Homo sapiens: one gene and its partners. The protein of the gene in region 2 purifies or fractionates together with the protein of the main gene of each other region. This does not show direct contact. Each region holds a gene or a part of one and is shown on either strand. Other genes may lie near its edges.

What was found.
Region 1: the proteins of POC1B (region 2) and WDR47 purify together in Homo sapiens (affinity purification with mass spectrometry; 2 studies listed by BioGRID and IntAct, with this or other methods). This does not show direct contact.
Region 3: the proteins of POC1B (region 2) and KDM4A purify together in Homo sapiens (affinity purification with mass spectrometry; one large-scale study listed by BioGRID and IntAct). This does not show direct contact.
Region 4: the proteins of POC1B (region 2) and SPRR1B purify together in Homo sapiens (affinity purification with mass spectrometry, with the first as the bait; one large-scale study listed by BioGRID). This does not show direct contact.
Region 5: the proteins of POC1B (region 2) and TDP1 purify together in Homo sapiens (affinity purification with mass spectrometry; one large-scale study listed by BioGRID and IntAct). This does not show direct contact.
Region 6: the proteins of POC1B (region 2) and TDRD3 purify together in Homo sapiens (affinity purification with mass spectrometry; one large-scale study listed by BioGRID and IntAct). This does not show direct contact.

The regions. Positions count from the first base shown.
Region 1 is NC_000001.11:108,990,100-108,993,850, forward strand, and holds part of WDR47 (WD repeat-containing protein 47), read right to left. Parts: intron 1,231-3,751; coding exon 1,155-1,230; intron 1-1,154.
Region 2 is NC_000012.12:89,466,797-89,470,547, reverse strand, and holds part of POC1B (POC1 centriolar protein homolog B), read left to right. Parts: intron 1-53; coding exon 54-187; intron 188-2,862; coding exon 2,863-2,931; intron 2,932-3,625; coding exon 3,626-3,751. Other genes in the region: POC1B-DUSP6 readthrough, read left to right, coding at 54-187, 2,863-2,931, 3,626-3,751.
Region 3 is NC_000001.11:43,688,111-43,691,861, reverse strand, and holds part of KDM4A (lysine-specific demethylase 4A), read right to left. Parts: intron 2,949-3,751; coding exon 2,767-2,948; intron 1,018-2,766; coding exon 813-1,017; intron 367-812; coding exon 290-366; intron 1-289. UniProt on the Homo sapiens protein: Histone demethylase that specifically demethylates 'Lys-9' and 'Lys-36' residues of histone H3, thereby playing a central role in histone code. Does not demethylate histone H3 'Lys-4', H3 'Lys-27' nor H4 'Lys-20'.
Region 4 is NC_000001.11:153,029,785-153,033,626, reverse strand, and holds SPRR1B (cornifin-B), read right to left. Parts: upstream 2,425-3,842; 5' UTR 2,380-2,424; intron 1,301-2,379; 5' UTR 1,282-1,300; coding exon 1,012-1,281; 3' UTR 727-1,011; downstream 1-726. UniProt on the Homo sapiens protein: Cross-linked envelope protein of keratinocytes. It is a keratinocyte protein that first appears in the cell cytosol, but ultimately becomes cross-linked to membrane proteins by transglutaminase.
Region 5 is NC_000014.9:89,983,230-89,986,980, forward strand, and holds part of TDP1 (tyrosyl-DNA phosphodiesterase 1), read left to right. Parts: exon of another isoform or gene 1-47; intron 48-1,286; coding exon 1,287-1,454; intron 1,455-1,902; coding exon 1,903-1,981; intron 1,982-3,751. UniProt on the Homo sapiens protein: DNA repair enzyme that can remove a variety of covalent adducts from DNA through hydrolysis of a 3'-phosphodiester bond, giving rise to DNA with a free 3' phosphate.
Region 6 is NC_000013.11:60,526,170-60,529,920, reverse strand, and holds part of TDRD3 (tudor domain-containing protein 3), read right to left. Parts: intron 2,560-3,751; coding exon of another isoform or gene 2,403-2,559; intron 1,555-2,402; coding exon 704-1,554; intron 211-703; exon of another isoform or gene 140-210; intron 1-139. UniProt on the Homo sapiens protein: Scaffolding protein that specifically recognizes and binds dimethylarginine-containing proteins. Plays a role in the regulation of translation of target mRNAs by binding Arg/Gly-rich motifs (GAR) in dimethylarginine-containing proteins.

The DNA of each region.
Region 1 (3,751 bases), on a different chromosome or scaffold from region 2:
ACCTGTAATCCTGGCATTTTGGGAGGTCGAGGTGGGAGGATTGCTTGAGCCCAGGAATTTGAGACCAGCCTGGGTGACGTAGTCACACCATGTCTCTATTAATATATATACATACATATATTTTTTGGAGACAGAGTCTTGCTCTGTCCCCCAGGCTGGAGTACAATGGCGCGATCTTGGCTCACTGCAACCTCTGCCTCCTGGGTTAAAGCAATTCTCGTGCCTCAGCCTCCCAAGTGGCTAGCATTACAGGCGTGAACCACTATGCCTGGCTAATTTTTGTATTTTTAGTAGAGACGGGGTTTTGCCATGTTGGCCAGGTTGGTCTTGAGCTCCCGACCTCAGATGATCCAACTGCCTCAGCCTCCCAAAGTGCTGGGATTACAGGTGTGAGCCACCATGCCTGGCCTAATATTTTTTTTTAAATCAAAGGAATTGGAAACACTGGACTTGCATATTTCTTTTGCAAGGGACAAATATTCCTTTGTGCTTATCATAAAAATGGTCAATTTTATTAATTTATGTTATCTATTTCATCCCTAAAAGCATCTCAAATTAACACCTTTGTTTATGGGGTTAAAATCTGAACTAGGAAAAGTAAGATAGAGTGAAGCTGTATACTAGCTAGGAAAGGATGTTTGCTTCCAAAGCAAAAAAAAAGGTGTACCGATGAGAAGCCCAAAGAGATACCAATAATGAAATTAACCATAGGGTTCAGAGAATAACACAGAGCCTCAATTCATGTCCCAAGGCCACTACTAGGCCATTAATATGAACACTCCCACGTGTCCAACTGTGCTTTCTAAGGCTCCCTCTTCAGTTACACCACTGAGAGCTCAACTGCCTTGAGCCTCGAGATAAATACCAACATTAGCAGTAAAAGTTTGTGGGGTTTTTTTTTGTTTTTTTTTTTTTAAGACACGAGGTCTCACTCTGTTGCCCAGGTTGGAGTGGTGCAACGGCTATCCACAGGTGCGATTCTAGTACTCTACAATCTCAAACTTCTGGGCTCAAGACATTCTTCTGCCTCGGCCTCCTGGGTACTGTACACCACCACGTCTGACTAAAATGGTTCTTTCTTTGAATTGAAAATTTCTTAGCAAAATTTACAGGTGCATATGAAAACAATAAAACTTCCTTCCCCAAAGTATTACCTCTTCCCCTTTCGACCTTGAAAGACTCCCTGGAGAATCTCCAAGAGGTGGCTTAATGACCGAATGTTCTGAAGAGCTGTGGGAGTAGAAATTCAAGTAAAGTTTACTCCATGTATCAAAATAGAAACTAAATTAATTTACCCTTTCAAACACTAATTTTTCTTTTTAGCAAACAATCCTAGCTGACTCCAAAGTTACTCTCTGGAGACATTTATTAAAATAAGCTCTGGATTCAGTGGCACCAATGACAGTTGTAAGGAGGAGATGAAAAGCCATTCTGGAAAGAAAATTAAGTCAAAGTCCACATATTTTATAGTGAGATGTCAAGTACCCTTCCCTTGCTTAGTTCCAGAATCCTGTTTGCTATGCTTAAATCCAACCCCAGACAGGACACTGGAGAATGCTCTTCAGGAAAATTATCTGGCCCAAGAGAAAAAAATATCAGAAACTTACAGTTTAGGGTACCTTAGTAAAACTATGTTTCCTCTTAATCAATTTTTGTGAGGCCAACAAGCAGACAGATCCACCCACATATGTAGCCCTTCCTTCCAATCAGCTTTTAAAATTTTTATTTAATATTATAAAATATAATAGAGACGGGGTCTCCCTATGTTGCCCAGGCTGCTCTCGAACTCCTGGGCTCAAGCAATCCTCCCACCTCAACCTCCCAGATTGCTGGGATTACAGGTGTGAGTCACCACACCCAGCCAGCTTTTGTTTTAATGTCTCACTGTTTACGGCCAGCCAAAGCTTTCTAGATACCTGAAAAAAGCCGAGATAAAAGGTAGAGACTAAAATCAACAGAAAAATGAACTTGGGAGAAGAGAGGCAATTTAGGGAACAAAAGCTACAAAAATGTAATTTAAATCCTTAGATATAAGAGGAAATAACAGATTAATAAGGAAACAAGAGCAAGATCTATTTTTTAAAAAGGAAAAGAAATTAGATAATAAGAAAGACCTCTTAGAAAATTAAAATATGATGGTAGAAAAAAGTAAATCCGAAGCAGCCTGAGGTAATCTGTGAAAATGGTTCGCTATTCACTTGACCCGGAGAACCCCACGGAATCATGCAAATCAAGAGGTTCCAATCTTCGTGTTCACTTTAAGAACACTCGTGAAACTGCTCAGGCCATCAAGGGTATGCATATACGAAAAGCCACGAAGTATCTGAAAGATGTCACTTTACAGAAACAGTGTGTACCATTCCGACGTTACAATGGTGGAGTTGGCAGGTGTGCGCAGGCCAAGCAGTGGGGCTGGACACAAGGTCGGTGGCCCAAAAAGAGTGCTGAATTTTTGCTGCACATGCTTAAAAACACAGAGAGTAATGCTGAACTTAAGGGTTTAGATGTAGATTCTCTGGTCATTGAGCATATCCAAGTGAACAAAGCACCTAAGATGCGCCGCCGGACCTACAGAGCTCATGGTCGGATTAACCCATACATGAGCTCTCCCTGCCACATTGAGATGATCCTTACGGAAAAGGAACAGATTGTTCCTAAACCAGAAGAGGAGGTTGCCCAGAAGAAAAGGATATCCCAGAAGAAACTGAAGAAACAAAAACTTATGGCACGGGAGTAAATTCAGCATTAAAATAAATGTAATTAAAAGGAAAAAAAAAAGTAAATCCATAGAAAATAGAGGTGAGGAAATTGCTAAATAATATTTTTTTAATTTCCTAGAACTTAAGTTTCCAACTTAAAAGGGCCCATGAAATACCCAGAAGAATAAGGAAAAATAGAATCACTCTAAGGTCTATCTTCTATATCATCATGAAGTTTCAGACTATCAGGGAAGAGAAGAACCTGAAAAATTCCAGAGTAGAAGGAGCAATAGGCCTCACCCAAAGAATGAGGAATCAACCAGCCTCGCCAACATGGTAAACATGGTGAAACTCCATCTCTACTAAAAATACAAAAATTAGTTGGGTGTGGTGGTATGTACCTGTAGTCCCAGCTAGTAGGGTAGCTTAGGCACAAGAATCACTTGAACCCAGGAGGCCGGGGGTTGCAGTGAGCCAAGATTGCGCCACTGCACTCCAGCCTGGGAGCCAAAGTGAGACACTGTCTCAAAAAAAAAAAAAGACAATGAGGAATCAAGATGGCATCAGACTTTTTAATCAGAACACTAAAACTGGAAGATCATGTAGCAATGCTTTTGAAATACTGAGGAATGATTTTCATCCTAGAATTCTATACCCAGCTATACTAACAAAAAAGGTGAAAAATAAAGCAAACACATTTTTAGACATGCAAGGTCTCAGAAACTTCACCTCTAAGGCACCCCTTTTCAGGAAACTGTGAGATGCTAAAAACAGGGAATCTAATAAAGAGATGAGGCAAAGGAAATCCCAGCAGAACAGTGAGGAAAGTCCCAGGATTCTATCTAGACCTACATAAAGTGATCAAAAAGCAGTAAATATAAAGTGAAGCAGGAGTGATCCTGGAGGGACATCTCCCAAGGGGAAAAAATGGAATAGAGAAATTTCTGACACTTTTTACAATAATGAGAGAAGTTTTATGATTTTATAATTCTGTCAAAGCACTTACAGATAGTTTAGTGATAAATATTAAGAAAACTCATCATGTACAGACA
Region 2 (3,751 bases):
TCAAAAGTAAGAATTGTTCTCTGAACTTTTTGCTTTTATTTTCTACAAATCAGTTCACAGCGGTGGAGTTAATTGCATATCATTCCATCCTTCGGGTAACTATCTCATCACAGCTTCTTCAGATGGTACCCTTAAGATTCTGGACCTCTTAGAAGGAAGGCTCATCTATACACTTCAAGGACATACGGTATTAACACTCAGATTCTTGCTTTTTATATATAAAAATATAAAATAATATATATTTTAAATTTCTGATCCATTTTTATGTCCCTTTATTGTTTTTCCAGACATAGCACACATTGCTGCTATCATAAAATTTTTTTACTTCCAAGGCTGTTTTTATCCTCTGGAAGCAACTCTTAGAAATATTATTTGTGGCTGGGCGTGGTGGCTCACGCCTGTAATCCCAACACTTTGGGAGGCTGAGGCGGGCAGATCACCTGAGGTCAGGAGATCGAGACCATCTTGGCCAACATGATGAAACCCCATTTCTACTAAAATACAAAAAATTAGCCAGGTGTGGTGGCACATGCCTGTAATCCAAGCTACTTGGTTGGGAGGCTAAGGCAGGGGCATCACTTGAACCCAGGAGGGGGAGGCTGCAGTGAGCTGAGATTGCACCACTGCACTCCAGCCCGGCAACAGAGCAAGACTGTCAAAAAAAAAAAATGGAAGAAAAAAAGAAATATTATTTGTTGTAATTCTTATCAAAATCAATGTGTATCTTTCAATGGCCATTAAATGAATCTTCTCCTGCTGTCTTTATCAGTATGTTGTATAGATTGACTGGGTAAATGGTGATGGGTAAGTAGATTCCATACTTCAGATCCTTCCTTCATGTGGAGGCTGTCCCGCTTAGCCCTGACACCCAGCCTCTCACACCTCTCCCTCACTCCTTCTGCTAATTTGTTGGTGGGTTTAGGAGAAATTGGGTAAGCACAGCCTAACACCTTCTACTCTCCTGCCTTTGGGAGTAGCCATTCTTCACTGTTTTTCTCTGATATTCCTTGTGGGGAGACCTGCCCTTGTCTAGTGTTGCCTGTGACTCATTCTGGGCATCCGTTCTAGAAAGCCTATTTGTGTTACACATAAAAGCCACATTCTCTTTTTACAAGCATTTATTAGAAAGAAAGGTGATATTTCGATTCTTATGTGCTGTATTCCTTTGTCTTATTTCTCAATTGGTTTAGAACCAAGTAGGTAAGAGGGGTGCCTTTTATTGAGCCTGTTCAAAGATCCCTCCCTGGCATATAGATCAATTTTTTAAATTTATTATTTCTTTATTTTTGAGATGGATTCTTAGTCTGTCACCCAGGCTGGAGTGCAGTGGCACAATCTCGGCTCACTGTAACCTCTGCCTCCTGGGTTCAAGTGATTCTCCTACCTCAGCCTTCTGTACAGGCGCACCACCACGCCCAGCTAATTTTTTGTTTGTTTGTTTGTTTAGAAGAGACAAGGTTTCACCATGTTGGCCAGGCTTGTTTTGAACTCCTGACCTCAGGTAATCTGCCTGCCTTGGCCTCCCAAAGTGCTGGGATTACAAGTGTAAGCCACTGTGCCCAGCCTAGATAAATTTTTTTGAGTATATAAACTAGTCTTTTCTTCCAGACAATATTCAAACTTCTCTGAATTTTTTAGAATGCATCCTCTTTTTTTTTTTGAGGTACTTCCTTTTAACAAGTATAAGCTGTTTATATCTAGAAATAGAATGAGCCTTGTGGTCTAGAAGAGAAGAGTTTCTTTTTCACAGGTTCTGCCTGGCTTCCTGCTTTGCGTTATCATTTATTCTGCAGTGGTGTTAGGGTAAAGCAGAAATAAATACTAACCAGCTTAAATATATGCATATCCATGGATTTAGGCTGAATAAACATAACAAATAAAAGTGGCCAAGGATTGAAATATCCATGAAAAAAGTACAAAATAATAGGGAAAAAAGATAAACACAGTCTTTCAGTAGGAAAACACTACATGAAGATGGAATTTTAGTCTGGAAGTAAAGGTGTTTATGAAGCTATTAATATTATAAACTAAATCTGTGGGATAGTCTACTTGGGAAAATACAAGATGTTTTTCCCTAAAACTTTTCTTGTACAGATTAAGGACATATTAAAAACATATGGTATATATTAATATTTTTGAGATAAGAAATACTTACTCTTATCTGGACTGAAAAATTGACCTAGAGGCTATCCATCTTGTGACTGTGCCAAGCACAGTCTTGTCCAACTCCGCAGTAACTGCTCAATTTCAGGTTTTCATTACCTCTCACCTAGATAATTACAGGAACTTCCTAACTGGCCTCCAACCAAGCATCTTACTCCAATTCATCTTTCTCAGAATTGTGATACTGATTTTAATCATTCACAGCTCTCCTCCTATCTGTGTTCTGCTCTTTAAACTTTTAGTGGTTTATGGTTGCCTACATGAAGGGGGAACTCAGTGAAGCCCATTGGTCAGGAAATGGACTTCATGTAAATAGCCTCATTCCCATTACCTACATATTTATCATTCAGTTTCTGCTAGTGATTGGTTGAATACAGAGTCCAAAGCCAGAAAATCTTAACAGAAATTCTTATGAACTTACATATGTAAAAGCTTTTCTTGAAAGGAGAAAAAAGTTATTTTTTTAATTAATTTTTAGTATTTTTTTAGTATCATTTATTTGTGTTTTAATATGATTGGGTTGATTCTTTGATTATCTTCACTCTGCCAGCATTAGTTGCTAGCAACTGATGTGTTTTATTAGACTTATTGCATGAGTAGTATGCATAAATTAGGATGAGAAATTGATATCCATAGTCTTCTTGGCCATGAGAAAGCATTACCAAGTACTTTTTTTCTTTATTTCCCTTTATTTCTCAGGGACCTGTCTTTACTGTTTCATTTTCAAAAGGTGGAGAGCTATTTGCATCAGGAGGTGCAGACACACAGGTTTGTAAATCTTTCAGCTCCTCTTTGATTTGGTTAAGGTAAAGGAATCCTTGACCTCAGCTAAGAGTTTTACAACCAGCTAGTTTGTGTATGTTAAGATGTTTGTCAATGAGTTTATATTTTAATTAGTACCATGAAGTCTGCTATCTCATAGCTGAAACAGAGCCAGTTCTAAATTTTGGGAACTCAAATAGTTATTTTCTTTTGCTCATTTTACACTTAACTATACATGTAACTGACACTATATGTCCACTTTCAGTAATTATATAGCACTTTTGCTTGAATCATTGCCTTATCTTAAGCTTCTTGAGGATGGTAAATATAAATCATTTATATACCAAATCTGCATTTATCTGAAATGACCAAAAGTCATTCATGGCCAGATTTATTGAATAAAGTGAATGACCAGTCCAAAACATGGTTTTGGGCTTTGACCAAAAAAAAAGAGGATTTTAAGATAACCAGATATTTTCTTAATATGAATTTTAAACCAGACATGAAGGCAATTCAAAATGTTAAATCTCTCCCTCAACCACACCTTAAAAAAAGATATTGAGAAATAGTAACATAGTTGAAATATATATCTACCCTTCCTACTTTGGGAGACAATTCTGTATATTGTGGGTTTTAAAATCAGCTCTATTGCTTGTACATGCAAGTCAATAACTGCCAACATCATTGACTTTTTTCATAGGTCTTATTATGGAGGACTAACTTTGATGAATTGCATTGTAAAGGTCTTACCAAAAGAAATCTCAAAAGATTACATTTTGATTCACCACCACATCTTCTTGATATCTACCCAAGAACACCACATCCC
Region 3 (3,751 bases), on a different chromosome or scaffold from region 2:
GCTCCAATTCAAAATGGCTAAATTCTTTTAAGGGAGTTATTGTTCCTCCACAGGAAGACCACTAGTTGGTCTTTCCACAATGGAGCAAACACAGCATCCAGACTCCGTAAGTGGGCAGCAACCATTCTCACGGTCATAGGATTTACTCTCACAATACTCGCTCTCTGACATCACCGCGTACCAGACCCTATGCAGACTGCTGGGAATACTGAGTCCAACATGAAATCGTCTGGCCCTGAATATGCACCAAGACTCATGGTGAAGACAGTAACAGTGTGGGATCACTCACCTCCTCTAGGGCATTGGCTGAACACCGAGAACACATCCAGTCTTCAGAAGCCTTTGCAGGGGGGACCCCATAGCAACCTAACAGGGACACCAAGATGAGCAAATTAAACCCAGTGGTCAGAGTCAAAAGGTAGATTTGCAATTCCTTTCCATATACCACCTCCCAAAGCTACAACCAAATCTCACAGAAACCCCTTAGTTTTCTTTAGTCTGAGTCCCCAGGGCTCAGGCATACAGTATGGCTCAAAGTCTCAAAAAGTCAAAAACTGTAGATTCACTGGTACAAACACCTAGTAAGTGGCAGGGACTAATCCCTTTCTGCTATCTGCAACCAAGAGGATGGCAAAGAGATGACTAGTGCCAGTATGGACCCCTGGAGACAGTGAAAAATCAGCTAGCAACAGACTCCCCAATAAAACATCAACAATCTTTTTGGGGCTGGGAGGCCAGGAGGTGGCAAGAACTTCCAGTGAGCAGGCCCATACTCCTGGGACAGGACACAGAGAAAGGTGAGCAGCACTCACTGGCATGGACCCGGACGCTGCACTTCTTGCAGGAAACGAGTATGCTGGTGCCATCCTCCTCAAGATAAGGAGTAGAAAGGTTGATGTCCGTGCTGCAGCCAGTCGAAGTGAAGCACATTTCTGGAATCAATGGCTTGGTCCTCTGCTTCTGGGGGGCTAAATCTGAAGCATTTCCACAGTTCTGATTAAAGCCTCCAAATTCAACCTAAGGGGAAAGAACAAGTGTACACCTCAGTGAGCACGTGCCTATGCTCTTAGCTTTCCACCTGCTCTATCAGCAGAAAGCTGGCTCTCTTACCGATCTGACTATGGCTACAGCTCCCGGGTGCACAGCCATTATCCCGGAGCTGCTAATTGAAGTTACCTGTAATGACTCAAATTCAGTTTCTCACAGCAGCATCATACAAAGGCCCCTAGGGGACAACTGAGAAAAGGGAGCAAGGTAAGAGGCAACTGGGATTTCAATCTTCCCAAAGAAAGTGGTTAATAAAATGCACTGAGAGGCCAGGTGAGGTGGCTCACGCCTGTAATTCCAGCACTTCGGGAGGCCGAGGCGGGTGGATCACCAGAGGTCAGGAGTCCAAGACCAGCCTAGCCAACATGGTGAAACCCCGTCTGTACTAAGAATCCAAAAATTAGCTGGGTGTGATGGTGTGTGCCTGTAGTCCCAGCTGCACTCCAGCCTGGGCAACAGACTGAGACTCCGTCTAAAAAAAAAAAAAATGCACGGAGATGTTAGCAGCTAGGCTGCTACTGTGGGCTCCCTTACGTGCTACACTGTGCGGTGACCCCACCTCAGGAGTGTACCCAGAGCAGATGCTCCTAGTAGGCCAGCACTAATTGCCTCTTGTGCCTGTCAGCAGGTCACCTGAACTGCAGCACTGTCACATGGCTGGAGCCCCACCTGTGTGATTCCTGGCTCAGGGTCCCTCCAGGAAGAACTTAAATCCACATACTTCCCTTGGCAAACTATACTGATTGCAAATATCTGCTGGATGGCACCTGCATCTCCATTCCAAGGATGAGGCCCAGAAAGATGTCAACCCCAGAGCCTATGCCATTTGTGAAACTCCTACTTAGTAGATCTGCTTATAGTAAGAACCCAGCCATTCACTCCCCTCATAGGCAAAGGCTTTGGTTTTGCTTTTTGTCAATGGAAAGGTTTAGTGAGTTCCTAATCCAAAGTGTGTTGGTCTGAGGTTCCATTTTCAGCAAGCATGAATCTGGGGCCCTGCCAGGCTCAGCGGCAGCCATGCCACTTTAACCACCACAGCAGGTAAGGACCACTTACCTACCTGCTATGCTGTGCAGGTCCCAGCTGAGACTGAGCTGGTCCCTTGGCACCTGCTGCTGTGAATGCCTTCCTGGCATCCTAGAGCTGGACCCAAAGAGATCCACCAATGAAGCCACAGATGCCCCAGAGCAGGAGGCACACAGCTGAGCTCAGCAATCTTGCTTCCCAGCCCCTCCTCACATATCAGGCCCTTGCTTCCACCCCTCCCAAGTTCCTTCTGCTACTGGCAACACGCATTGTGGCAATGGGAAAGGAAAAACAACATTAGAGGATCTGGCTTTTCAGCTGAGGTTCAGACTGTGGTAAGGAAATCACAGTTCTCCACCCTGGCCAGGACTATAAACCACTTGGCAGGAATAACCACGGACTAGAATAACAGAAATGCAGATTGCTCTGCAAACTGATGTCTGTGATGACTGCATGTGCAAAGGGGAGCCTAAGCCCACCCTCAGCTCATCTCCAAAGCATTCTCAATTGAAACCCACGTTGCTGGGTTATCTGCCTGGAGAAGACTGACCAATACACAGATGGGGCAGAGAATGCTGGGGGTGGAGGTGGCCTTTCCCAAGACAACCAGTGACAAGCTATATACTCACAATTAAATCTAGCTTCCCTATGATTGCTGGTCCTGGGTAAACAGAGTGCATGGAGCTGGGTTACCTGATGATAAGTCTGGAAGATCATACAGACAGCGCAGTGAGGGGCCTGTTGGGCCATGGTCTCATTGAATTCCTTCTCAGCCTCAAAGTTTGGAGGTCGGTTCTGCCACAGTTGGCTCAGAGGCTTGGCCCAGGCCTCTGTCTCCTCAGCCTCTTCCTCAGGGGTCAGCTGTTCAGATGTCTCTAGAGGAGGAAACAGAAGTGTGAGTCAGCACTAACCCTGCACATCTGTGGCTCTGCCTGGAGAACAGATGAGTTCCACTAGGACTCCTGATCCTAGGTTTGGACCAAGGGTGACTCCTGAATTCCTAAGGATGATAAAGGCAAAGGGTGGAAGCAACTGTCAATAGACTCCTTCAGTATCTTGATGATGTGTAGGGAGTCCTGCCAGTACCCCATTCTCTGGCCAGACTGACTCATGGCCTCCATTCTTCCTCCTGCCCCACGAGCTCAGCTTGCTCTACTCTCCCTTAACAGCTGCCACATTCAGCCCTTCTGCCCAAGGACAGCAGAATGAAGCACCATCTTGCCAAAAACCATCTTATTTGCTGCCTCCAAAACGTCAGCCTGTTAAGTCCTTTACCTTTTAGAGTTTTCCCTTTAGTGCAACTAAACAAGGAAGGAAAATAACAGGGAATTGGCAAAGCTTAAAAGTTGTAATATCATGGTCCTTGGCCAGGACTTACCAGCTTCCTCTGGAAAGGTCAGCAGTATGTACCTATTCTGGACAAGGCTCCCCAACCCCTCCTAGAGCAGAGCTACATGTCCAAGATGAATCCTCTTCCCAGCCACAAGATGTGATGCCTGACGCTGGCAAACAATATCCTGCAGGCTGAATCCAGCCCACTGAGGAAGCTAAGAATTGTTTTTACATTTTTATGATGGGGTCTTGCTATGTTGCCCAGGCTGGAGTACAGTGGCTATTTACATGTGCGATCATAGCTCACCACAGCCTCAAACTCCTGGGCTCAAGTGATCCTCCCATC
Region 4 (3,842 bases), on a different chromosome or scaffold from region 2:
CCATGGTTCCCACCTATGTGAAAGAAACAGTCTCCAAACTGGATCAGCTTTTGTGCATTACTCTGTGAGGACTCCAGATCTTGTGTGTGTGGTTGTATATGTGTGTATGTGTGTTTGAATGAGGGGTGGGGTAGGGAGTGAAGTATATCCCTCCAGGGCACTGTAAATGCCCCTGGCAAGCACCTTAAATCCCCTTTGTTCTGTTTCAGGTCCAGAGTTGGCACTCAGAAACTAGAAATGACTAACTGAGATAAAGAACGGAGTCTGTGCATCTTTGGAGGTGTTTGGAAATCTAGGTTGTAGATATCAGAGAAATGAGTGAGAAGGAGCAGGTTAGCATATGTAGGAACAACATTACTTGAAATAAACAGGAATTGGCTGGTAAGTTAGCAGTCTAAAAGCCAGATTTGGAGAGAAGGCAATCAGGATTAGTGAGTCAGAGTCAGCTTAGACAAGTGCTAACTAAACTCTAGCATGACTCACTGAGTTGCAAGAGGAGAGCCCTTTTCCAGCCCTGGATGCCCAAAGCAACAGCCTCTAGGTGGCATTACACAACCTCCCATAGGCAGCCCAGGAATGCTTGTGGGGGCAGCCCTTCACCCTCCTAATGTGAGCATCAGATGCCTTCTGGACAAAGCCCTTCTTCACCAACTCATCTCTGTGTACAGCTCCCGCTTCACGAGGGAAAGGAATGAAGTTGTAGAGTCAATGACACACAGTCAAGAGTGGAATTGAAAGTGAATTTAATGGGGGTATAAGGGAGCTGAATCATTTGCTTTCATCTTAAGTCTCTCTTCAGATGAATTCTGAGCAGCTGAAAACTAGCTCTGGTACTAAGACCTTCAGCTTCATTCAGAGACTCAGAGTGTGTAGGAAAGAAAGCTTCATAGCACATTCTTTTTTGGGGGAGACAGAATGCTAATTGCAAGGCAAATGGGACTCATACGCAGAATGGGATAGGGGATTCAGCATCTGGTGGCCGGCTCCTCAAGGGCATGGCTGTGGACCACATTACTTCTGCTTGGTCTTCTGCTGGGCTGGTGCTGGAGTGACTATTGAAGGGCAGGGCTCAGGCACCTTGGGGTGGCATGGCTCTGGAACCTTGGGCTGGCAGGGCTCGGGCACTTTGGGGTGGCAGGGCTCAGGCACCTTGGGGTGGCAGGGCTCCTTGGTTTTGGGGATGCATGGTTCCTGAGGTGGAGGCTGGCAAGGCTGTTTCACCTGCTGCTGCTGAAGCTGAGGGGGTGGGGTGCAAGGCTGCTTCTGCTGCTGGGAACTCATGCTGCAACAGTGACTGGTCCTGGACACAGAACAGATGATTTAAGCAGAGAATAATAGGGAAGAAGCCATGGTGAATACCACTTCTGGTCTCTTAAAAAGCTATGTTCTTTCCCCTTCTTGACCACAAAGAATACTTAATTTAATTTCTGAGCCTTTGAAGAAGAGGAACCTAAAGATGATTTGCTCTTGCTCCACTGGAGCAGGGCCTCTCCTGGTGCTCTCTTTCTTCCTACACAGCACAATAACAGGCTTCTAGCAGGAATATGAGACTCATAATACTGGACCATTGGAAATGTGAGGTTCTTTGGAAAAAAAAAACCCTAACAAATTAAATCTACTCACTCATTTCTGATAAATAGCATGGCTTATCATCTATTGTATAACTCTGACCTCTCTAGAACCCCAAGCAATCCCACCTGTGGCCTGGCTCAAGTTCTCCTCTGTCTTAAATGTTTTCCTTGTTCCTACTCATTCAAGCACTAACCAAACTCCACAGATCGCTTCATATGGGACTTTTAGTGGCTTCTCTAGAAAAAACCTTCCAGAAATCTCTCTATTCCCAAACTGTCACAGAACTTGCCCTAATCACCTGGCACTGATAAGTTACTGTTATACAATGCATTTTAGCTCTTATTTCCTGATTAAATTGTAGTATCATAGATGCTTAAATTATTTCTTTGCAAACAAATTGCCAAATATAGTAAGCTCTCACAAAAGTATCTGTTGAAAGAATAAAATTCTCTGTATTAAAATTATAAATAAGAAGGAATTATAATGCCAGGGTAAGTGCTGTGGACCTGGGTTCTAGTCATTATCCCATTACAAACTTACTATGGATCCTTGAATAAACCAACCCCCTTCTTGCTGACACAGAAAGAGTGAATGAAGAACTGATAATGTCTAAATTCTCTTCAAGCCTACAGTATGAACACTTTTAAAATGAAGATATTCCTAGAGGTTATAATTCAGTTGAACAGTCTGCATGGCTATGATCAAATTCAATAATGAGGGAAAAAAATACCAAGAATGCCAAGGAGACTCTAATAAAAATTAAATACCTAGAATGGATGCTAAAGAGTTCCAAGTAAAGAGACTCACCTGGTGTGAAGAGAGGAATACTCTGTATGGTCCCTTAGAACTGGTGTAGTGTTCCCAGCCAACTGGCTTTTTATGCATGGAACAAGCCCTGCCTCAAGGAAACAGGATCCATCTGGGCTGCTGTGCCTACATTCCTTACCTGTCAGATGTGATTCACCCCTCTTCCCTCACCCACCTGTTGACTCAACTTTTGTGATGAAACTTGTGGCACTTGCTGTCTGACAAGGATGTCACCTGGGCTTTATCCCCCTGAACACCCTTTGCTCCCAGGTGTAGTGTTTACAGGAAGGGTGGTGTGGGCTGAAAGAGAGAGAAGGAAGACATTCTGGGGCTGCTGGAACCAGAAACTGTCCTATCTTCTGGAAGAGTCTAATCCTCAGCACAGGTGACACTTGTAGGGCTGTTTAATATATGAAGTGGATGTAGAGATAAACAATAGGTATTTCTGGTTATTCTGGGAGGCCAAGGGCATGGTGGCTAGGTGAAAAATAGTAATATTCTGTTAATCCATCACTCAGTATACTCGTGCCTGGCAGGGGAAAGGAAAAACTAAAATGATTATTTCGGTTCTAAAAAGCCTTTTCTCCAAGGAGGAACTCAGGGTAAACAACATAGGGGCAGGCTGACCTCAGTCTGTGAAGGAGAGTTCGGAGCAGTGAAACTCTGGGAAGAATGGTCACGTTCGGAAGCTCTGGAGCAACCTGGCCCTTTTAGTCCATCCATTTATTCTGTACATTGTGACAGTAGGCCCTGAAGACCCTGGCTATCATGGGGAATCCCTTCTCTGCAGCCAACATGGGAAGGAACAAAGGAGCTGGGATTCCCTGAGCCCTTATATCAAAGTTCACTCTCCTCAAGATAAGATGAAACTTAGGTCACTAATCCAGGTCTACCTGCAGTACACAACCTGTTGCAAGTGTGGTTTTTGGAAAATCCAAACTATCCTTCAAATCCAGGTGTCGGATGGTCCCTCCCTCATTATTTTCACTCATCTAAATGTTTGTAGAGCAACTGCTGGCTGCACAGCTGTGTCACCTCTCATGAACTTGAGCCCAGGACCAGCCAGCTACCACCAGAAGTTCCTCTGCTTAGCCATTGTTCTACCTTCCATCTTCACGTGATGCCTGGTGTGTAGTAGCTGCTCAGAGAATTGACAATTATAGAATAACTGAATGAATGGAAGGATGGAGAGATGGGTGGATGATGTTATTCGTGAAGAGACGCCAGAGGCTGTTTTGAGAATTATCAGGAAATTTTTTTATAGGGGAAATCCTTCCTTGTGGCAGGCCTCATGGTATAAGCTGAGAAAAGCTGTAAGAGCTTAGCAAGAGACAGATATTTCTGTCATTTTATCCATTATGATTTGGCTGTTGCCCCACCCAACTCTCAGTTTGAATTCCCACGTGTTGTGGGAGGGACCCGGTGGGAAGTAATTGAATCATGGGGGAAGGTCTTTCCAGTGC
Region 5 (3,751 bases), on a different chromosome or scaffold from region 2:
CACACGGAGGCAAAGGCCCAGAGAGATCACAGAGCTTACCCAAAATGGTATAGTCAGCTAGTCGATCTGGGTCCAGAACATGGGCTCCAGCCCTCATCACACCATGCTACCTCCTGTGCTAAGTGTCTCCCCAGGGTGGGAAGCAGGGGTATGAAATGCCCCTTGCTAGAAACTTGCAGAGTTGAGAAGATGTACGGCCGAGAGTCCTTGCAGTTCTGGATGCCTTCTGCCCTGGTGGCCTGCATCTTGCCAGTCTCCTTCAGGGGCTGCCAGGTGAAAGAGAAATTGGGCAGTTTCTCTTTCAGCTTAATAGATAGAACCCAGGGTGGGGAAAAGGAGAGTAGCCACAGAAGGGGAAAAAAGTAACACCTGATACTTTTGACTGCTCCTGTAAGTCATTGCTTTGCAACAGCCCAGTGAGGCAGCCTTGTTAACCCCACTTTTTTGCATTTGAAGAAACTGAAGCACAAGAGGTTTGAAGCCATTTTAGTAATCTACTGTGGAGCAGTTTATAGAAGGATTGGGATTAGATATGATTGTTTTCTATTTATGGATATAATGTAGAAGTTTTGGCAAAGAGCATTGTTTTCCTCTAGGGAAAAAGAATTAATGAAATGAAAGATGTCTGTAATGCTTCTTCAGTGAATTAAGTGTTGAAAGTTTGAGGTTATTGTAATGTCACTGAATGTGATATATACTTAATCCAGGCACCAGAAAGTATAAGACATAAAAATATGCTGCTATAGGACCTACGTTATGAAAATGGGTTTGTTAATTGAAAATAGATTTTTCACATGCACTTTTGGTATAGATAACACAATTCTTATTTCACATTTGGCTGAAGAGCTGCATTGATGCAGACAAGGGCAAATTCTTGCTTGGGATTACCACTAGTAGCATGGATTTGCTTTAACCGTTAAGAGTAGAATTCTTAACTCTTGTCATCAAGTCTTAGAAAGCAATATATAGGTGCAGAGGTAAGAGGAGCAATAAGGAAGGTTTGGCAAGTGAGAGGGAGCATGGAGGGATGTGGGTTGGAAGAGGTGGGCAGAGCCCAGGTCTTACTGAATCTTAAATTCATGGCAAGACATTCAGGAATAATTCTGAATGTGATGAGAAACCATTGGAGTGGTGTTCTCAGATTTATGTTTCATGTTTCCTAAGATTACTTACCATGTGGAGATACCGAGAATTCACCTCTTTCTTAGGATGAAGGCATAATCGATACAGAGATCATTATGATCAGTTGTGTGCCTGACTGTTAAAGGTTATTTTTTTAATTCCAGAATATGGTTGAGCCCCTTATACCCACGAATTGCTGATGGAACCCACAAATCTGGAGAGTCGCCAACACATTTTAAAGCTGATCTCATCAGTTACTTGATGGCTTATAATGCCCCTTCTCTCAAGGAGTGGATAGATGTCATTCACAAGCACGATCTCTCTGAAACAAAGTATGTGTCAGCTTATCAATTTGGGGTGCTTATGATAGGCTTATACCTTGGGAGCCTCATGAGGTCTGGCATGCAGGGGCCTGGAAAGAGGTGGGGTGAAATCTAGCCAAGCTTCAGGATGTGATGAGGGGATGAGCAGATTCTATCACATCTGTATCTTGTGGTTCTCAGGCATTAAAGTGACAGCCAGTGAATCCTCATGTTTACCTTAGCCTCCCACTGGGTTACTCTCACAATTATTGAGTTCTTTGTCTGGTACTTTACATCTTGTAGGCATTCCATCATTAGTTGATTTGCTTGAAAATGAATTTGAGAGTCAATTCAAGAAAATGGATTGGCTCTTAGATCATTTCTTGATTATATTAGTTTTCATGTGTATTTTGTCATTTTTTTTGGTGCCCAAAGCACATCACTATATTTTATAACTTGTGTTTTTATGTCTTTTTAGTGTTTATCTTATTGGTTCAACCCCAGGACGCTTTCAAGGAAGTCAAAAAGATAATTGGGGACATTTTAGACTTAAGAAGGTAACAGAACTTTTACTATTTTAACATTTTTAAAAAATTTAATGTATATTCTCTCTTTTAAAATAATTATATATTTTGATGCAGCTTCACAATATTTCTGCACAATTCTGGGCAAATAGATACTTGATAAATTGATAATTATAATTCTTAGTAATTACTGCTTTTTAATGTGTTTTGCCTCTTTTATAGCTGTAGGCTGTTAATGGCATAAATATATAGACCTTTTCTAGTTTTTATATTGTAATAAAGATAGAGGCTTCCTATTCATACACATACTGTAGCTTTGATTATAGCTTTTGATTGTTCAGCATATCAAGTTTTAAGATATAAATTCAACAAACAGAAAATGTTGAGTAAAGACTACAACTGAGCTATAATATATTTTGATTATTAAACCAGTGCCCTTAAGAAAACAAATTCAAAAATAATACTTGCTGCTGATATGAAAATGCACGAAGAAAGGTCATAAAATAAGTTGAAGATTAAAGTTTTTTTCATCTCTTTTTAGGTGGTTTACTGACCTTAATAAATTCCCTGGCCAGGTGTGGTGGCTCACGCCTGTAATCCCAGCATTTTGGGAGGCTGAGAGGGGCGGATCACAAGGTTAGGAGTTCAAGACCAGCCTGGCCAACGTGGTGAAACCCTGTCTCTACTAAAAATACAAAAATTAGCCGGGCATGATGGCAGGCACCTGTAATCCCAGCTACTCGGGAGGCTGAGGCAGGAGAATCGCTTGAACCCGGGAGGCGGAGATTGCAGTGAGCTGAGACCACACCATTGCACTCCAACCTGGGCAACAGAGCGAGACTCCGTCTCAAAAAAATAAATAAATTCCCTAAAGTGGCTTTCTTAAAAGCCTTAACCTCTTATTCCATAAACTATTTAAAGTCTAAGAATTTTCCCTTGGTTAATGAAACTTTTTATTTTAATTTCCTTTTATGAAATGAGACCACAGCTTAAAGCAGGCAAGATCTTGAAGACATCTTTATGTCTTGGCCTAGAGAGGAAGTTCAGCACATTGGCCTGTGCCCAGTCTTGGAGGCAGATATCCATAGCTGGGTTCAAACCCTGCTTTGTTATCTACAAGCCGTGTGACCTCGACTTGTTCCTTAACATACATCGGTTGTCATCTATAAAGTGGACATAATAATAGTACTTCCCTCCCGTGATTGTGAGGATTAAATGAAATGATGAATGTAAAATAGTACAGGGCACACAGTAAGTCTTCAGTGCACATACACAGTTGTTTGTGGACAAATGTCTAATGGTTTAGATAGGCTAGATAATAGCACGTATTATGTGTGATCACCATCTGATACTGAAAGTTCAACTGTATGTTAAGAGTTTTCAAACCACTTTTTACACACAGTTGCTCATGTTGCACCACAGCTTTCTTCCAGGAAGGCCGGCCGGTGATTAGGTGCCTGTTTCCACTGAAGTGTAAATCTAAGCCAGAGGCTTGTCCAGGATAGGGTGGCCCTTCAGGGGCTGAGCACTGCAGTAGAAACTGGGTGTTGTAAGTTGTCGGTTCAGCTCTGTTTCCTACACCATGCTGTACCCAAGGTGGACATGGAAACTTTGGGCTTTTTGGGAAGTGTATGTGTAAGTATTAATGCCTAACCTGTGTTAAGGAAAATAATACATATTAAATTAAACAAAACGTCAGTCAGATGAGCTACAGTTTATTTTTCTGCTCTCTCCAGCCCTCTAGGTAGGCATTCAGTACATATTTAAGTGGATACAGTTTCCAAATGTTTTCTTAATTGTTTC
Region 6 (3,751 bases), on a different chromosome or scaffold from region 2:
TCCCTTTCTTGCTCTCACTGGGCTGGTCTTCTATCTCTTGGGTAGGCTTTTACTTGACCCACTGCACTCTTTCTTGCCCTCATCTTCTGTCTTTCCTTCCTTCTTTCCCCTACAATTTCTTTCTTTGCCTTTAGCCACCATATAATATAAAACTAAAAATTGGTTTAATAATTTTTACACTCGATCTTAGCCAAAAGGCCGAGAAGCAATGGTTTAATAATTTTAAAATTATTATAAAATAAATAATTAACTTATATGTTAACTTTTTAAAAAAGTAAGCTGAATGTGTACTATTTTCTTCAACTGAAAATCTGCAGAATTTTACTTTGTGCCTCTCAACTGATTTTCTTCCTTGTGAATCAGTGTAATTTTACCAGAGTGAAAAGCAAACATATGTAATTCAGTTGATGATAAGTAAAATAAAGCTCAACTTCACATAATTACTTTTACAATACTTTTCTGGCATGTAAGCTAAAACCAAACCGAACTTAACCAAATCTTACGGGACAGATTGTCCCTAGGCATCCATAAAAATATTAAATATTTTGTTTATCCTTTATATATCTATAAATCTGTTCAAAGATTTTAAACAGGTACAATAGTAGAAAAAGACTCATAGTTCCAAAGTGACAGCTTCTATAAAGTCCCACTAGAATGTTACATTTCGTAATATTAGTGTATAATATCTTTAAAGCATCCATACCTTGTTGTCTTCCCAATAAAGTGCAAAACATTCATCTCCAGGTTTCCACATTTTTGCATACTCCATAGGAATAGATGATTCTAGTATTTTTTCTGGCTTAATTGGCCCAGATCTTCGTTTGGGCCCACTATTGTAAAATATTTTATCATCACAGGGTACAGCTGTGACAGGTCCTGCTGGCTTAATAGGTCCTATTCGTCTTCCTTTCAGTGGCATTTCTACTTCTCCATTTGGAACACCAATGAAACTATTACTTCGAACTGGATTCTGATAATCAGTATTTACATTAAAATGTTTTTCAATTTTTATACCACTGAAAGCTTCATTATTTATTGTTTGTGATTTCCTGTCATAAAAATAATCAGGAATAGATGTTTGGCTTTCTCTTTTTCCACGTTTTTGATTATTATAATCTACAGATCCTTGAGGAAGTGGATTTTCTTTTGCCTCTGCAAAGGAGGGACCTTTTCCTGATCTGCTTTGCATAGAGTTATCTCTTTTTTTAAAAGCACCATCACTATGCTGAGAACCTAAAGGATATGAAGTATCTTTAGTTCTGTCATATCTAGAATACGGTCTATCACATTTGATTCTGTCTTCAGCCCATACTTCAGATACTGAAGAAGTACTTGGTCTTTCAGAACCTCTATTTCTAGGTAATCCACTGCCTTCTAAAACTGACTTTGAATTTTGGGAGTCTCTTTGAAAACGAGGCGGTTTTTCATTTCTTGGCTGCCTGGTATCATTTCGAGGAGGATGTCTCAGATGATTATTATCTTTTACTCCATTTTGCTCAGTATTTGATGATCTGTATTGTCCCTGATGAAGCTGCTGTGGCTGTGATTTAGGTTCTGAAAGGTAAAAGTATACCATATGCAAATTAAGATGAAGACTCTGCATTAATAATTATTTTAAAATGCTTTATTCTATTAATACAAAATTATCAAACTACTATTCTAAAATCTTCTTCCATCTTCCTACCTCATTATCTTACTCCTTCTTTGCTTCCTTGGAGTCCTGCATTTCTAATGTACAGTTTTCTTAGTCAGCAACATTAATAAAGTAAAGTAGTAAAAGGGACCACAGAAAAATGATGGATAATCCAAATTCTTATAATACAGCTACCTACATATGCTATTCTGGTAAATCATTTCCTAAAACATTAATGAAATAGAACTGCAAATTGCTAACTCAGAAACTGCTATGAAACTGCACAAGTACAACCCTGATCAACTCTTTCTGAATGCCACTCTAATTTAGAAATATATAGCTATTATTATCAGTCATGTTCTAGCCTTTGCAAAAATGTTTCTTTTCAAATCTTTCTGGATCTGGAATTGCTAAGTGTTTACGTTACAAACAGATATCCTACTATAAAAAAGAGTTTATGTTACAAATAGATATCCTACTATACAAAAGGGTTAATTTTCTTGATCTGTTAAAGTAATTAAGAGTGGGTACTACTTGGAAATACAGAAAAGTGTCAAAAGTGGAAATACCGAAAAAGTGTCAGAAACATTACTAAGCATAATACTGCCTATAATGTCCAAGAAATAACGTGATAAATATAGAAAGGTAATTTTTAATGACTGTATTTCACATAGTGATTTTTATTCTGTTTCAATTTGTACCATGTCATTTATACTTTCTTCCTCCATAATTTCACATAGCATGTCTATAACATGATTACCAAACATACTCATTGGTCTTTGGTGTATGTGTCTTGTTTCCTTTGTCATACATCATAATCAACATGCAGCTGTAATTATTCTTATATTTCCCCAAGGTTACACTTCCAAAGAGGGCCTCCACTGACATCTTGGGTGAGACTGTTCCCTCTGTTGCAAGGAAATTAACTGCAAGAAAATTAACTTCATTGGCCTACAGATATGAAATGCCAAAAGGACCCTCCCCCAGCATCCCCAGGGATGTTGACTATCAAAACTTTCCCCAAACATTTCCAAACAGCCACTGGAGGCCAAAAGGTATCTGGTAAATTGTTTAAAACAACAGGAATAAAGGTTTAAAGGTTACTGAGTGACAAAACAGGTCACTGATTAAAGATCAAGACTCAAAGTGGTCAGGCCAGGCATGGTGGCTCACACCTGTAATCCAAGCACTTTGGAAGGCTGAAGCAGGTGTATTGCTTGAGGCCAGGAGTTCGAGACCACCCTGGGCAACATGGTGAACCCTTGTCTCTACTAAAAATACAAAAATTAGCTGGGTGTGGTGGTGCACACCTGTAATCTCAGCTACCTGGAAAGCTGAGGCAAGAGAATCGCTTGAACCTGGGAGATGGAGGTTGCAGTGAGACGAGATTGTGCCACTGCTCTCCAGCCTGGGTGACAGAGCAAGACTCCATCTCGAAGAAAAAAAAAGACTCAAAGTGGTCCAAAAAAATCCATTCTCAACCGAACCAATGGAAGCTAGAAGCCAAAAGGCTTTAAATACTTTTAAAATTATGGAAAATTTTCTAAGGAAAAAAATTAATCCAGTCAAACCACCCCTTAACTGTGACAAAGAATGAAGATTTTTCTAAGATATAAGATTTCAAATATTAGCCAAGGCCATAAGAGAGATCTTTAAAAAAAAAAAAAAAAACTTTCCCCCAAGAATATCTGCCTAATAAACATAACACAATGTCTTATTTTAACAAATGCAGTCAATATTAAATTTTTCTTTAGAGAGAAGAAAAATGGTCACTTTTAGTTTCTGCTGGCATTGTTTACTGCCCAGGAGTAAAGATTTCGGGAAGAATAGCAGTGACCATAATCAGGACACAAATGAGCACTTTCAGCAGAAGGCATATATTGGCTTTTGTTCCAGACATTTTTATAAAAGCAGCATTTGCCTCCTGTTGATTATCTGCTATGTATTACATAGCCCACACTAGCACTTTATATACATTATCAATAGTCTCCAAGATAGTTTTATGATACAGGTGTTATGAGGCTTAACAGAGAGAGGTAAACTAAGGTCCCTTGTATAGTACATTGAATAAATATTTGGGGAGTAAGCTTTTCAGATCTGCTGTTTAGGGAAGAATTT